2 separate regions of the Homo sapiens genome follow, and region 1 is linked to region 2. Evidence: fine-mapped expression QTL. Tissue or cell type: subcutaneous fat. Region 2 holds a variant in brackets; the other region holds the start of a gene. All regions are shown on one strand. Distances are from middle to middle.

The links. PIP is the estimated chance that this variant, and not a neighbour inherited with it, causes the effect.
Region 1: it holds the start of AK4, and the variant in region 2 is fine-mapped to the expression of AK4 in subcutaneous fat (FUSION, PIP 0.95).

What each region holds. Positions count from the first base shown.
Region 1 is chr1:65,143,591-65,151,707 of GRCh38, reverse strand. AK4 (adenylate kinase 4) reads right to left here and starts at 3,505. Exons shown (of 5, transcript NM_013410.4): 1 at 3,156-3,505. The coding sequence starts at 3,300. RefSeq lists enhancers at 1,538-2,256, 2,257-2,975 and silencers at 2,569-2,848, 2,909-3,208, 3,589-4,088, 4,099-4,338.
Region 2 is chr1:65,064,741-65,072,857 of GRCh38, reverse strand. It overlaps a transcript of JAK1 not described here. Among named protein-coding and RNA genes, the nearest start is that of MIR101-1, 10 kb to the right of the region's middle. RefSeq lists a silencer at 5,384-5,983. The variant AC/C (reference allele first, on the strand shown) is at 4,142.

The DNA of each region.
Region 1 (8,117 bases), 79 kb before region 2:
GACTTCTGGACTAAGATGTACTGTCTAGAATTTGTGACCCAGGCCTTTAATACAGACTCGGTAAGCTCCTTTTATACATTAGGTACTTTGCCTGATCCCTGTCCTCCAAGTTTCAGAGTGGAAATTGTACAATGGTATAGGCAGAAAGAACAAAAGGCCCAAGAATGGGCCAGGTGCAGTGGCTCACACCTGTAATCCCAACATTTTGGGAGACTGAGCCAAGAGTTTGAGACCAGCCTGGGCACTAAAGCAAAACCCCTATCTATAAATAATAATAAAAGAGGCACAAGATTATCTTAATGCTATTGCCCCCAGCACCTAGAACATTGACGCACAGCAGCCACTCAGCAGATATCTTACTGGGTGTGAGACAGGCATTTTTACACTGCATGATATATGACTGCAACATTAGAATCAATAAGACATGTGCAGAGGAGAGGAGGTCAGGTGCGGTGGCTCACATTTGTAATCCCAGCACTTTGGGAGGCCAAGACGGGTGGATCATCTAAGGTCCCGAGTTCGCGACCAGCCTGACCTCGAACCTTCGTAGAGATGGTGAAACCCTATCTCTACGAAAAATACAAAAATTAGCCGGGCGTGGTGGCAGACGCCTGTAATCCCAGCTACTTGGGAGGCTGAAGCAAGAGAATCGCTTGAACCCGGGAGGCAGAGGTTGCAGCGAGCCGAGATAGCGCCACTGAACTCCGGTGTGGGTGACAGAACGAGACTCGTCTCAAAAAAAAAAAGTTATGTGCAGAGGAAAGAGATGAATTCTGCCAGAGCAGGTGAGGGAAGACTTCCAAGAAGCAATGACATCAGAATGGCCCTTTCCTGAAAGAGCAGCTTTTCACCAGGCTGCAGGAGGAGGAAAGCCATGTAGACAAGAGTGTGCCCAAATCCAGGCTGGAGCAGATGGCCGGAGCTACTTTCCAATTCAAATTCCTACACGGTTCTATTTCCTGGGTTTTTGTTGTGCTTCATCGTCTCCTTCAAACCTTCCATTATAAAGGGTACATACAGAAGGGTGGTTGTGTTTCCCACCAGGAAATCAGCTAAAAGCAAACAGCAGGTAACAGACAGAAAAATAAATACCGTGGAAAGGAATGTTTTATTTACCAGGCAGTAAGCCTATAAGATTCTCAGACCTTCTGAGAGGGAAAAATAATCCGATAACCCGAAAGTTCACTAGAAACAAGCCACTTTCAAAACAAATTGCTGTCCTTTATTTTTCTTCTTTCTTTGATAAAGTTTTTTTTTTAATTGGCTCATGCAAAAAGCTGCTTGATTCCCAACAGAAAAAAGAAAATCTAAACATTTCATAGTCATTTCTCACTCCAGGGAGGATCACTGGGGAGGAAATGAAGGCATTTGAAAGAGAATGAAAACTAAAATTTAGAACACAGGAAAGTTAAAAAAAAAAAAGAGAGAGAGAGAGAAAGAGAGAACAAGGGAAAAGAGCAAATGGAAAATTTTCAAAGCCCCTAAGAAAGTGCAGAAATAAGCTACTTCCCATCACACTCTCTTTAAACATGGAAAGGGCTATGAGTCCAGTCCCAGGATGGACAGTGTGAAGCCCTTCATTCCAGAAGGAAACAAGTCACCAAGTAAGGTACAGAGAATTATGGAATGGGCTCATAGAAGGAAACAAGTCTCCTAGTCAGGTACAGAGAATTATGGAATGGGCTCATCTCTTCTCACTGTCTTCCTTCACTGACTCCATGCCCCTACCATGAAGAAGCCCAACCTAAACACAAAACCATTAGGATGAGAGCCAGCCTTCCCCCTCAGGCCGCTCTCCCCTCAAACCGCAGCATTTCAAGAATAAAATGCATGTGAATGTATTAAAATCAAAATAGGCGCACTTGAGGTAACAATACCCACAACAGAAAACTCAAGTGCAATCTGGTACACATAATTCTTCCTTTTGAGACATGGGGGTGGGGGAAGAGTTTCCTGTAAAAGTCCGCTTTTTCAATCTGCTTAAGAGATAAGGAATACAATTCTGGAGATACTTCTTAATTCCTTGCTTTTAAGCTTTCCTTTTGTTTTCTGGTACTGTCCTCCACCTTCCTTTTCAAGCCAGTCTGTGCTTCTGAAATGCAGATCTCCGGATAATTAGTCCATGATGGGCAATAACCAGCCCGGACATCCTTGAGAAGTACATCGACAGTAAAGGACCCCTGCTGGGAAGAACAACTTTTCATAAAGGAGTTGCTAATTACCAGCATCTCCATCCCAGAAGGGTTAAGAGCCTCGCAGCAGCACAACCGCTACCTCTCGCCTTTTAACGCCAATTCTTTCGGAACTGGTGTGAACGTGGAGTGGGAGGAGAGGGGGAAAGGGACGCACTCAACCCCGTCAGACTAAGAAATCAGGCGATCTATATATCCCCAAGTTCACCACGCCAGCCAAAGGAGGCATCTCATGCCAAGGGAGGCAGCTCAAGAAGCCATTTCCAGGAAAGCTGCATTACAAAATGTAATTTATCAGAACGAGTCTCCTCCGAGTCTCCTGACGGCCAGGCCCGGCGGCTTCGGGAGGGGGGGGAGTTGCTGGGGAGAGTTTACCTTAGAAGGCGACAACGAACAGACAGGCCTTTCAAAGCCACCCAGGGCTCTGCCCCGAGGCCCGAGGCTGCGTGGAGGGGCTGGAGAGGCGCGAGGCTGCGAGCCCCCCGGCGCCACAGGTTCCCCGGCGCGCGGCCCCGCCCGACTGCCACAGGTGGGCGGCGCTCCGCCTCTGGGCTCCCGCGGGAGGGGGCGCGCGGCTCTCTAGGGACTCGGGGGAGGGGGCCAGGGCTAAGGGGTACGGGGACGGCTCTGCCTTAAGGAGGGCAGCGTGAGACGGAAGCTCCGGGTTTTCCCTGCCTAGTTCTCGTTCCCTCGGCCGGGTGGCTCGGGCTATTCCTCGCGACAGGAGGAGCGGTGGAGAGGAGCCGTGGGCACCTCCCACCGGCCGCCCCTGGAGCCTCGGCCTCCTCCCCAGGCGCGGTTAAGCCGCGCGGCCGCCAGCTGCATGCGCCCCGGCACGTACGAGCCTGCACGACCACACGCGGGCGGGGGAAGGGCGCCGTGATCCGGGAGCCCCAGTCCCTCCAGGGCCTCACCCCAGCCCAACGCGGCTCGCCCCCGGCCCTCGTCCCCGCAGCCCCTCACCGGTGCTGGCCTTGATGTTCTCCCGCAAGAAGTGGCCGCTGGAGAGATGCTGGAGACCAAAGTTCTGGGCGATCCTCTGGCACACGGTGCCCTTGCCCGAGCCGGGCGGCCCGAGGATGACCGCGCGCAGGAGTTTGGAAGCCATTGCCTTCGCGAGGAGGGGGGCGGTCAAACGCGCAGCCCCGACCGCGGCCCCGGAGGAAGCCCCGGGAACTTTGTTTCTCGGCCCCCTACCTCTGGCACCCTCCGCTCTCACTGGGACTCGCCGGCCGCCCCTACAGGGGGAAGGAGAGACTTTTAAGACAACCCCTCCCCTCAGCCCAGCGCCGGGACCGAGTAGCAGGCGGACTGAGCGCCACGCTACACCTCCCCGCCCTTCTCCACCTCCTCGCCCTCCTCCACCTCCTCGCCCCCACGCAAAGCTGCTGAAGCGCGCCGTGCCCCGCCCTGCCGACTCGGCCTCCAGGGGTCAGAGGTCGGCCCGGCCAGTCCCACCTTCATCCTTAACTCCAGCTCGCTCCCCACGCCGCGTCCGAGAAGGGGGCCGGGCGGCCAGGCATCCCCAAGCCAGTCTCCGCCGAGCCGGGGAAGCTGGCACAAGCGGGGGTGACTCAAAGCCAGCCCCCGCCGCCCCACGCACCGGGCGGCCTAGGGGCTGAGCCCCTGCCCGGTCCTCGCACGTGGGCAACGTGTGGTCTGCGTCTCGTCCCCTCCCCGGCGGCTGTCACATCCCCCGGAGTCTCAGCTGCCGCCGCTGCCCGCCGCCCGCGCGCGCTCGGAGGGGCCCACCTCCGCCCGGGGTTGGCGGATGCGCTCCCCGGCCATGGGGCGCGCGACGAGCCCGAGCCCCGCGCCTCGCCACCAAAAGCAATCAAATAAACACACACCTTGGCTGGAGGCAGCACTCCGAGAGGCTTCCAGCCCGGATCCTGCAGGGCGGCGCCGCCTCCGCCCGCCCAGTCGCGGAGCCCCGGCCGGCCGCGCGGGACTCGCGCCTTACGTAAGCCCGGGAGACCGGCTCCGCGCGAGCCGCTGGCCGCCGCCCCCTCCCCTCCACTCCACTCCACTCCCACCCAGCCTGCCTGGCCCACGTGCTCCCTGCGACCCAGCGAGGGCTGCGGGGGCGAAGCGAGGTGCAGACCACGCGAGGTAGAGAAACCCCTTTTTTTCTTTCGCGGTCGCCTGGGGACCGCGGTCTACTGCAAGGGAAGGGAAAAATACAACTTGTTGAGCGCCTACTGTGCGCCAAGTTTGCGGCTAGGTGATTTCATTGTGTTTACAGCCGAGGAATGGAGCGTGACCATTCATTCATTGATTCATTCTGCAAATGTTTATTGAGTGCCTACTGTGTGCCAGAAACTATTCTAGGCGCTTAGGATCTAGCCGTGAACAACAGATCGAATCCTGCTCTCAAGAAATTGCGTCCTAGCGGGAGGCTGGAACCCAAGACTGACTGACTCCAAAGTCTAGGCGCCTTAGGGAACAGGGAAGAAGGGGATGTCCCTCACCTGTGTTCAGGACCTTCTTGGTAAATGATTCCAGGACTTCCATGCGCATTATGCTGGTGCTGCACCTATAACTCACCAAGTCCAAATGGAGTCTGTCTTCCCCCACTCCACCCTCCCCTGCATATCCCAATCCACATTCTGTTAGATCTGTGCCCACCTTACACACAGCCTTTAATTTCCCACCCCAACTAGTGGGATAAGTGCCCATAAGACTCCAGTTTCTGTGCCATTCCATTTTCCGTGCAGCTGCCAGGAATACTGATAAAGTGAAAATCAATATTTATTATTTCCCGGCCTCAGATATTGTCTTCCCTTCAGGATAAAGTGAAAAATCTTCAGCAGGGGCGCAGAGATGCCTTCCGTACACCTTTGCATTCTGCAGGCCCCCTCCTCTGCCTTCCTTCCACAGGCCACCTGCCTTCAGGAAATCTGTTGCAGAGTTCCCAGCACCAATACCCAGGACTCAGAGAAGGTGAGGGACACAAGTAGTGGGATGGTGTGGAGAAGAACCCCCTCTCAGCTCTTTGATTGGGGTTGGTGGAGGGCAGGGCCTGGCATAGTTTCCTGACACCCAGCGCCTCTCCCCACTGCTTACTCCACGCACAAAATTGGCCAGACAGCACACCCAGGCCACCAGCCCCAGGCCAGCATTTGTTCCATAGACTGATCTCCCTCTAAAATGTCTCAGTGTGGCCGGGCGCTGTGGCTCACACCCGTAATCCCAGCACTTTGGGAGGCCAAGGCAGACGGATCACTTGAGGCCAGGAGTATGAGACCAGCCTGTCTAACATGGTGAAACTCCGTCTCTACTAAAAATAGAATGATTAGCCAGGTGTGGTGGTGCACGCCTGTAATCCCAACTACTCCAGAGGCTGAGGCAAGAGAATCACTTGAACCTGGGAGGTGGAGGTTGCAGTGAGCTGAGATCACGCCACTGCACTCCAGCCTCGGAAACAGGGCGAGACTCTGTCTCAAATAAATGATAAATAAATAAATAAATAAATAAATCTCAGTGTGCTGTAGACCTGATACTGAGCCCCTTCAAACCTTTTCTGGGAACAAAGAGGAAGAACTTGCGGGTCTGGGGGTGGGGGTATATGTGTATAATATGTAGCAGATACTTCTTTGGAGTGGCTCTCAGAAGTGAGCATGCATCAGAATCACCTGGAAGGCATGTTGAAACGTGTTGCTGAGCTCCCCCTGCATAGTGCCACGCACGTCCATGTGAAGAGACCACCAAACAGGCTTTGTGTGAGCAATAAGGCTGTTTATTTTACCTGGGTGCCGGCGGGCTGAGTCCGAAAAGAGAGTCAGGAAAGGGTGGTGGGATTATCATTAGTTCTTATAGATTTTCGGATAGGCGGTGGAGTTAGGAGCAGTGTTTTGCGGGCAGCGGGTGGATCTCACAAAGTACATTCTCAAGGGTAAGGAGAATTACAAAGTACATTGATCAGTTAGGGTGGGGCAGAAACAAATCACAGTGGTGGAATGTCATCAGTTAAGGCTATTTTCACTTTTGTGGATCTTCAGTTGCTTCAGGCCATCTGGATGTATACGTGCAGGTCACAGGGGATATGATGGCTTAGCTTGGGCTAGAGGCCTGACACACAGAATCTGATTCAGTGGATTGAAGGTGGGCATTTCCATCAAGTTCCCAGGTGATGCTGAGGTTGCTGATCTGGAGACCACACCTTGAAAACCACTGCCATAGTGAACAGAGCATTGAGACACAAGATGTGTGGTGTCCTGATTCCTCTGCCAATGTATGACCTTTGGCCCTTAACCTCTACTTTGTAAAATGAGGAGGTTGGATTTAGTACATCCTGAAGATTCCTTCATATCTATTAAGAATTGACTGTAACTTTCCACAGGAAATATGGCTTTTAGCCCGCACAGACTAGCTATCCTATAGCCCTACCTTACCCTACCACCTAGTTCTTTTGTCTACTTTTGAAATGTCTTTACCAACATTACCTTATAGTGTCATGGAACAGTGCTAGCCACCCACATGATTCTAGGACTTTATGCTTTTAGGAGTATAAATTATTAAACAAAGAGTTGTGACACACATTAGAGAAACCAAGATTGGAACCTCGCATTTCACAAAAGAGCCCTCAATGGACCATCCCAGTGCATGGCCATCTCATGGTCCCTCAGCTCAGCTGCTGCTGACTTGGAAGTGAAGCAGAAGATGAAGAAACAGACTTTGGAGTCCAACACACCTGAGATCAAATTGCAACAGCACCATTCACTAACTGCAAATTTCATGATCTCTGTGAGCCTTAGTTTATCTGTAAAAGGAAAATAATACCTCAGAGTCTTGTGGTGAAGCTTAAATGGAGATCATGTATATAAAGGACTCAGTACAGGGCTGGGCATACAATAAGTATTCAGTCGTAAACATCATCATCACCAGTATTAATCATGGGTCAATTATTTAGCCTCTCTAAACCCAGTTCCTGAATGGTGAGAAATAAATGAGATAATACAACAAAGCACCTAGTCAGTTCCCTGGCACTTTTTTTTTTTTTTTTTTTTTGAGATGGAGTCTTGCTCTGTCGCCCAGGCTGGAATACAGTGGCACGATCTCAGCTCACTGCAAGCTCCGCCTCCTGGGTTCACGCCATTCTCCTGCCTCAGCCTCTTGAGTAGCTGGGACTACAGGCACCTGCCACCACGCCTGGCTAATCTTTTGTATTTTTTTAGTAGAGACGGGGTTTCACCGTGTTAGCCAGGATGGTCTCGATCTCCTGACCTTGTGATCCGCCCGCCTCGGCCTCCCAAAGTGCTGGGATTACAGGTGTGAGCCACCGTGCCCAGCCTAATGATAGCCATTCTTATCATATACATACACTCAGGTAATTAACTTCTTCCTATTTCCTTTGTCTAGGGTTTTTAACCCATTTGTAATACTTATCACAGTCTTTGAGTTATTACACAACTATTTATGTTTTTGTCTCCCCTCTAACACTATAAAGTCTGAGGTTTCTGTACTCAAACATATACCCTTTGTAATAATCTGTTAATGTTGGCAAGTCTCTATCCCTCATAACACACTCAGTACCATGCAGCATTGCCTGCCTGGGACGATAGTACAAAGGGAGCCGGACCTCAAATCAGATTTCCTCATTCTGAGCACAGTGCTCTTGTTCCTCTAAACTTCAATTATTTCCACACTATTTTTACAGTTTTGCCATAACATTGTACCACCTTGGCTGTTATTTGCTTATCATGTTTTTTTAATTTTTTTTATATTGACTGAGTTTGTTTAAATAATTGATCTGAGGCTGAGTGCAGTGGCTCATTCCTGTAATCTCAGCGCTTTGAGAGGCCAAGGCGGATGGAGGTCCGGAGTTTAAAACCAGCTTGGCCAACATGGTGAAACCCCATCTCTATTAAAAATACAAAAATTAGCTGGGCGTTGTGGCGCAAGCCTGTAATCCCAGCTACTCAG
Region 2 (8,117 bases):
AAGTTAATCAATCAGCCTGGCATGAGTAGGGTTGCCAGATAAAACACAGGATGCCTACTGAAATTTGGATTTCAGATAAACAATGGAAATGTTTTAGTATTAAGTATGTGTCATGCAATATTTGGGACGTGTTTATGCCAAAAAGTTATTGTTTATCTGCAATTTATATTTAACTATGCGTCTCATATTTTTATTTAATAAATCTGGCAACTCTTCCTGTGGGTGTGATGGAGGATGAGGCTGGAAGGCTTGGCAGAGCAAGATCACAAAGGGTCTTGTGTGTCATGCTTGGCAGATAATGGGGAGCCAGGAAAGTTTTTTAAGCAGGGGAACAGTGTAACAGGGTTTGCATTTTAGAATCACTGTAGTAGCCTGTGGAAAACAAAACAGAGTTCAGAAGGACAGGAACTGAGAGACCAGAAAGCTATTTCAATAGTTCAGATTTGAGGGAAATTGAAAATAACTTAACCCACTTCACAGTTCTGCCTAAAGCTAGCAAGGCTCCCAGGTTTCCAGGTTCACTTGGGCTACAGAGACCAACTATTCTTTCAAGAGCTACTCTTTGTTTTTGTTTTATTTGAGATGGAGTCTTGCTCTGTCGCCAGGCTGGATTGCAGTGGCGTGATCTCGGCTCACTGCAACCTCCACCTCCTGGGTTCAAGCGATTCTCCTGCCTCAGCCTCCTGAGTAGCTGGTACTACAGGCACATGCCACCACGCCCAGCTAATTTTTTTTTTTTAAGTAGAGACGGGGTTTCACCATGTTGGCCAGGATGGTCTCTTGACCTCGTGATCCACCTGCCTCGGCCTCCCAAAATGCTGGGATTACAGGTGTGAGCCACTGCGCCCAGCCTACTCTTTGTTTTAAGGAACAAAAAAAAGCTCTGGTGGAGCGTAGAATATATTTATTTATTTATTTATTTTTGAGACGGAGTCTCGCTCTGTTGCCCAGGCTGGAGTACAGTGGCGCGATCTCGGCTCACCGCAAGCTCCGCCTCCCGGGTTCACGCCATTCTCCTGCCTCAGCCTCCCGAGTAGCTGGGACTACAGGCAGCCGCTACCATGCCCGGCTAATTTTTTTTTTTGTATTTTCAGTAGAGACGGGGTTTCACCATGTTAGCCAGGATGGTCTCGATCTCCTGACCTCGTGATCCGCCCACCTCGGCCTCCCAAAGTGCTGGGATTACAGGCGTGAGCCACCGCGCCCGGCCGAATATATTTATATATACATAATATAGTGTCAGGCCGGGTGCGGTGGCTCACGCCTGTGATCCCAGCACTTTGGGAGGCCAAGGCAGGCAGATTCACGAGGTCAGGAGATCAAGACTATCCTGGCTAACACGGTGAAACCCCGTCTCTACTAAAAATACAAACAATTAGCTGGGTGTGGTGGTGGACGCCTATAGTCCCAGCTACTCGGGAGGCTGAGGCAGGAGAATGGCGTGAACCCAGGAGGCAGAGCTTGCAGTGAGCCAAGATCGCGCCACTGCACTCCAGCCTGGCTGACAGAGCGAGACTCCATCTCAAAAAAAAAAAAAAAAAAAAAAAAAAAATATATATATATATATATAAACACACATATATATACTGAGTGTCTTGCCCAAATCCTGTGTCAATCACATACTTCTTGAGGAAGCTAGAAAGATATGTGTATATATCAATCTCTCAATAGACTAAGCTCAGTATCTCTTTCACTATTGCATCCCCTGTAGGTAATCAATAAACATTTGATTCTTAGATGATGAGTTCCATAAGGGCAAAGTCTGTTATCTTCATCATCTTTGTTTCTTTAGCACCCCACCCAGGGCTGGGAATAAGTTTCTCAGAAAATAGTTCTTGATTAAAGTGGTTTAATTAATTAACAACCAGAAGTGCTTCCTATTAACTACATTTCTCCAACATTACTTCAAAGGTACAACCTGGCATATTTTTCACATGAACGCAAAAGAAGCTTGCCTCTTATAATGGATCAGAAAATTGTTTCTTAAAGCTGAGGAATTATACTGACTAGATGGAGTTTTAAAGATAGTATTCCTCATTTATGTGAAAATGTGAGATTTTTTTTCTTGAATTTTCCTGCTTCCACAAGCTTTATCATTGTGTCGATACTAGTAAATCTTTAAAAAAAACCCAATCTTAATTAAATACAGCTCAGGTAGATCATCATAAACTGGTACAAAGTGGTCTTCTCTTTCGGTTACCAGTATCAGTCTAGTTCCTTGTATCTGTATCTCTTCCAAAGCTGAAGTGTGAACTTTTTGAGGCCAGGAACTATTCTGATTTATCTTCATAGTCACAGAACTTTCATTAATAGTAGGTTTATTGAATTTCCAAGGTCAGGCAGCCAAAAGGGAAAGAATAATTCTGGGAAGTGCATGGGGTAAATAAAATGCAGTTTAAAAATTATTATAATGACCCTTTATTGAAGATTATTTTCCGAGTATCATGCTAGGTGCTTTACATATGTCTTAATACATTTTGATTACACTTCAATTCTAAAAACTCTTGAGCTAGCTGTTATAATGCTCATATTATGGGTAAAGAAACTAAGAATCGCAACTGATAAATAACTTGCCCAGACTGACACAGTTAACAAATTGGCAGAGCTGAGATTAGTACCAGACTCCAAAGTCTGTGCTCTCACCATGACTCCAGGAATTGTCATTTTCAAGTACATATTGGAGAGAGGAAGACTGGTGAGGTGCTTATAAGAACTTCCTTTAATCAGCCACTACATGGTACCTCAGAAGACTAAAGTTTGATTTTTTAAAAATGTGTGAGTGCACATGTGTGTAAAACAAGAGGTATGGAGGTATTTATTATAACTATATGTTTTGAGCCATGTTCTTTTTTTTTCTGTTCAGTTTTGTATTCAAAAGAACAAATGACTTTACATATATAATTAGACTTCATCTCCACCTTGACTGCAAACTGATGATATACTTAAATTACTATCACACTGTTGTTATCAAGGATTAAACATATGGGTTGTAGATGTTACAATCATTCATACCAATTTCATTTACCCCATCCAGAGGAATACATGTAGATCATGTTCAGATATGCAATGGAACCTTATCAGTCCAGATGTATAAGAACTGATCTGTGACAATCCAGATCCTCCTCTGAGCTGTAATTGTATACGGCAGTTATTCTGTTTTTTGTTTGTTTTGTTGTCGTTGTTGTTTTTGGTAAACGTGTACTTTTTGCCTGATGCTAACATCTTTTCAACAGTCCTCTTTTGCCTGCTCAACCGCCAGTCTCCCAGTTCAGTGATCCCAGGAAGAATCAGAGTCTTGTCTGCCCATGATGATTTGCTTCCAGTCTGCACCAGGTTAAATCACACCTTAAACTTTATCAAACTTTTGGAGTCTAAAAGCAAAAGCAACTCACAAAGTGCAAAGGTTGGCATAACTAATTTATTCATATGAATCAGAAAGAATTTAAAGAAGAGGAACCAAATATGGTAAAACGAGGGGCGGGGCGGGGCGAGGGGGGAAGCAGTTGATTTAAAAAATTGAGAAAAGCAAAACATGTTTTGCCTGGCTTTGTAACTAAAGAAGACTGCCAAAAATGGTCTGCAGAGGTGTAAGAATCAAAAAGCATCTCCAGTGTTCTACCTTCACCAGAAACATGCAAGGAATTTCCTAGGATGGAATTATGGAAAAGATCCTCTTCAGGCCTTCATTTGCTCATTCATTGCTAGTCATGGTGCTAAATATGGGAGATATAAAATGAGTATGGCATGGCCCTGGCCTCAAAGCTTACCCTAGTGGGAGATACAGCAACTGTGCCGTACGCTGATCTGTGAAAGGCACCAGAAAATAAATGTAAAAACCATACAGTGGATGCACAAAGGGGAGAGTGGTCAACTCTGTGAGTCTAATAAAAATAATTCACAATAAGCACATAGCGATGTTCCGTGAGTCCCGTCCCCACCCCATCCTCTTATAGCCAACCCCTAAGAGAAACGACAGGTGAGCAGGGCGCAATCCAAGCTGGGCTCTAATTAAATGTGTGCCCTAGAGCAACTCCTAGCACTACTCAGAGTCTCCGTTTCTCTCCCTGTAAAAGCCAGGAACCCTGCTCAACTATGAAGTCCATTTCTGCTCTGAATTAAGAAATAGAGGAAAAAAAAAAAA[AC/C]CAGAAAGGAAACTCACGAAAAACAAAAGTGAAAGTGCCTGAAGGGAACCCAGTAGTAAACAAGAGTACAAAATTCTATATCTCACCGGAAAACAGTGGCAGAGTTCCCAAATATTTTTTTTTCAGCAACTGTGAACTTCGGAAAGAATGAAATGTCTATCACTCCCTTTGAATGTGAATAAGATCAGTGTAACACGAATCCACCTTGCTCTATGCAACTGTCTTCTGAAACAATCCTCTGACCCTGAACACCACTTATTTAAATAAGCGGTTCTTAAATCAATCAATCCGTAGTGAATGGTCCATCCCCACAAAACCAATCCCCATTGAAGACCACACCAAGTTGTGCCCCACTTTGGGAAAAGGGGGAAAGCGGGGGTAGAGAAAGAGGGGAAGGATTGGAACCAACATTAGATTGTGCCTGGTGTTGCCACGCGGTTGTCATAAACAACGGCGTCGAAGCAAACTGTTTTAAAACTTAGAAAATACGGCGGCCTTTAAACTCTATTATGTCCCTGCTCATGGCAATAGTGGGACTTCTCTGAACGTAGCCCACAACGGTACAGCCGCCCGGGAGGGAAAGCGAGCTCTGGGGCGGACAGGCGAGTGAAGGCAGCCAGAGGAGGGGAGCAGGCTGACAGCTCCCCCAGCTTCCGCGGCGCGTGGGGGACCAGGACGGGCGACCGCCACAATCAGAGGGTGCGAGCTGGACCCACCGGGGCCACTGGTCTCCAGGGTGGGAGGATGGCTGCTGCCTGTCCGCTGCCGGAGCCTCCTTTCTCCCAGCAGAGGAGGGAGAGCGCGCGCACGTACACACACTCTCATACACACACGCACGCACACACATCCTTCCCTTAGAGTTGTGTCTCGTCTCCCTTTTGTTTTTCTCCCTTCCCGGTCATGAGACCCGGAAGTTTTTTTTTTTTTTTTTTTTAATCCCGTCTCTCTCCCTTTTCCAACCCCCCCGCCATCTATCACATGGCAGAGATAGAATAAAAACAGAAAAATGGCGACGGTCACGTTGTGGCGAGCCTTGCTGCGTCATTAGATAATCCTCATGCAAATAGCGGGAAGAACAAAGGAAGGGGAGCCCGGGACCCCCGGGGGCGCAGGTGGGTGTGGGGGCGGCGGCCGGGCGCGGGGGCGGCGGGGCGCGCGGGGCCGAGCGCCCGCGGGAGGCGGGCTGCGTGGGGCGTGCGGCCGCGCGAGGCTCGGGGCGCAGAGTGTGGACGTCCGAGTGCGCGCCCGTGCGCCGCCGTGGAGCGCTGGCTGCTGCGCTCCCGGCCCCGTCTCGCGGCGCGTCGGAGCCGGCCTGGGGACGCGGGAAGCCGTGGGGCGCACAGAGCGGCTCCGGCGAGGCTGGCCGCGGCGCACACGCACACGCAGCCGTGGGGCTCGGCCCGCTAGGCATCCGCACTGGGGTCTGGGGGCGGGCCAGGCGGCGCCGGGGGCCGAGGGCGCGCCACTGCCCAGCGCCTAGCGCCTGCCTTCAGCCTCCTCCGGGGACCGCACGCAGTTCGCCACCTCGGGGTAGGCGGCGGAGCGCGGGGGCGGCGGCGCGGGGCGGGCCGGGCCGGGCCTCCGCACTCCGGGACCGACTGCGAGGGTGTTGCCGGACTGGGTTTGTTGTTGTTAGCGCGTGCGTGTGTTTTTCCCGAGGGGTAGCGGGGCGACCTCGCCCATGGGCATTTCCGCGGTTTTGCGCGGCCCTCGCTGGGGTGTCAGTGGCAACGCGGGGAGCCCCGGGCGCCTGGCTCGGCCCCCGGAGGGGAGCGGCGCGGAGGGGCGGGGTGTGTGTGTAAATGTTGCGCACTCGCTTTTCCCCCGCCCCCGCCCGCGTCCAGGGTGCTGGCGTGGGTCCCTTGCCGTCCGGCGGCGACTGTAAATAGAGCCTGGATGTTGTTTACATGAAGGATCCGGCGGGAGGAGTCTAAGAGGAGGAGGCGGCGGTGCCGGAGGAGGAGGAGGAGGGAGGGAGAAGAGAGGAAGACCGGAGTCCCCGCGGCGGCGGCGGTCCGGAGAGAGGGCGAGCCCCGCGCGGCGCCGGGGACCGGGCGCTACCACGAGGCCGGGACGCTGGAGTCTGGGGTAGGAGGGAGAACGGGCACGGGGCGGGAAGAGGGGTCCGTCAGTGGCATTTTTAGCTTGCACCCTGCCACGCAGATTCTCCCCGGCCGGAGGGGAGGAGGGTGGAGGGAGGGCGGGGAAGCCTCGGTTTCTCTGCACGTTCGGGAACGCCTTCTCCCCCTTCATTCTCCCATTCCCAGTGTTTTCCCGCTTCTCCCCGGGCTCACCTGTTTATTTCCATCAGCTAGAGCTCGTGGTTTTTTAATATAGGCATGAGAGTCTGTTTCTTTTATTAGAAACATTATTGGGGAGAGGGGTGCTTTGCTGTAATTTGTGCTGGTCCAGGTCGGTTTTCAGGAAGGGGGAGGGGACTTGGCGGAGACGCCGGCTCCTGGCCGCAGCTGACCCCAGGGCTTCTCCCTGCCTTCCTGTGCGAGGAATTCTTTCCCTCACTCTGCTACCCGCACGCCAGCTGCCACCTTCCTGGAGAAAGACCACACCTGTGCTTATCCCTGCTTTGAAGGAGAGGTGAGCTGAGAAACCAGGGAATCCCCTGCTCTCCAGGGTTCTTAGTTAGTCCTCTCCGCAATCCCAGCATTGGCCAAAAATTGCTGCTTTCACCTGCTGATTTAATTTGGCATGTCTGTCCCCAGCCCCCCTTTCCCCCGGCAAGTTGTGATCTGCAGATGTTTTGGGATTTTCTCTTCCCTCTGGACCTGTCCCCCACCAACCAGCAAATAGCTCCTGGGCCTAGGTTGAGGGAGAGAGAGAAGTGACCCCCTTTGGCCAGTGCGCTGTTTTTTATTCCCCTCTGGGTCTTCTAATGGAATCTGCTGTCCCTCCGTAGCCCCCTTTATTTTCCCCTTAAGCTTAACCCAGAGCCAGGCCTAAGCAGCCTGTCTCTGGCTTTCTTTCCCCAGGCCCCACCCTGGCCCCTTTTGCTTTTCCAGCGCCAAAAAAAACGCCTCCCAAGCAGAAGACACACCCAGCCCAAGTCTAACCATTCCAAAAGGGAGGAAAACACAGAGGAAGAGCAGGGACCCAAGGGTCTCCTGTCCTGAATATTCCAACAGCGTTTCCCTCTAAAAGCCTCCTAGCTTTATAATCCCTTTATTCTGCTTACCAGTCGACCCTCCCCTCCTCTTTGCCCCTTGTTCTGTGATAGATATTTGGGGAGAGGGGTGGAGAAAGAGGTTGTCACCCTCTGTTCCTTACAGTGAGGCATTTTTCTTTTTCTCAGTCTTTTCATTTATTAGATGTTTAGCATGTAAAATATGTAAATCTGTTTGCAGGCTTATTTGAACTTGTTTTCTTGCTGGCTAAGGAATAGCTGATATTCTATAAAGGGAAGGAGGGGGGAAAAGATCAAAAGTAACACTCTGAGTTTTCCCCATTTGAGCATCCCCAGAGTTGCCAGAGAAGACCCTCCTATAAAAACCAACAGTCTCCCTTCCATGACATCACCACCTAAGCCCTTCCAACTTTAGCTTCAGAACAGGAAGAAGGCTCAAAATAGAACTACCTTAGGAATCCAGCTCCTTGAAAAGATCAACTTTTAAATCAGCTGCAGGAGGAACACAATGAACTTTGACATGGGGAGTGAGAAGGGAGAGAAGACTGTATAGTGTTCATAATTGGTTCCTTTGAGGGAGGGTTGGGGGATACTTACCGTGTATTTCAGAAAAGCTTTCCTCTAGAGTTGGGTACCTAGACCACTGAATGATAAATAGGATGGTTCAAGATTCATTTATTGAATTATTCATAAGTTTTTGTACGTCAACAATAACAAGCACGTTTCAGAATATGAATTAAAGAGGGGCCTCTCTGCAGAATCTGCTCTAGATAGAGAAGGTTGTTTCAGGAAGCTAGGAGGGCACTTGAAGACAGAGAACCTGAGGATGCAGTGAC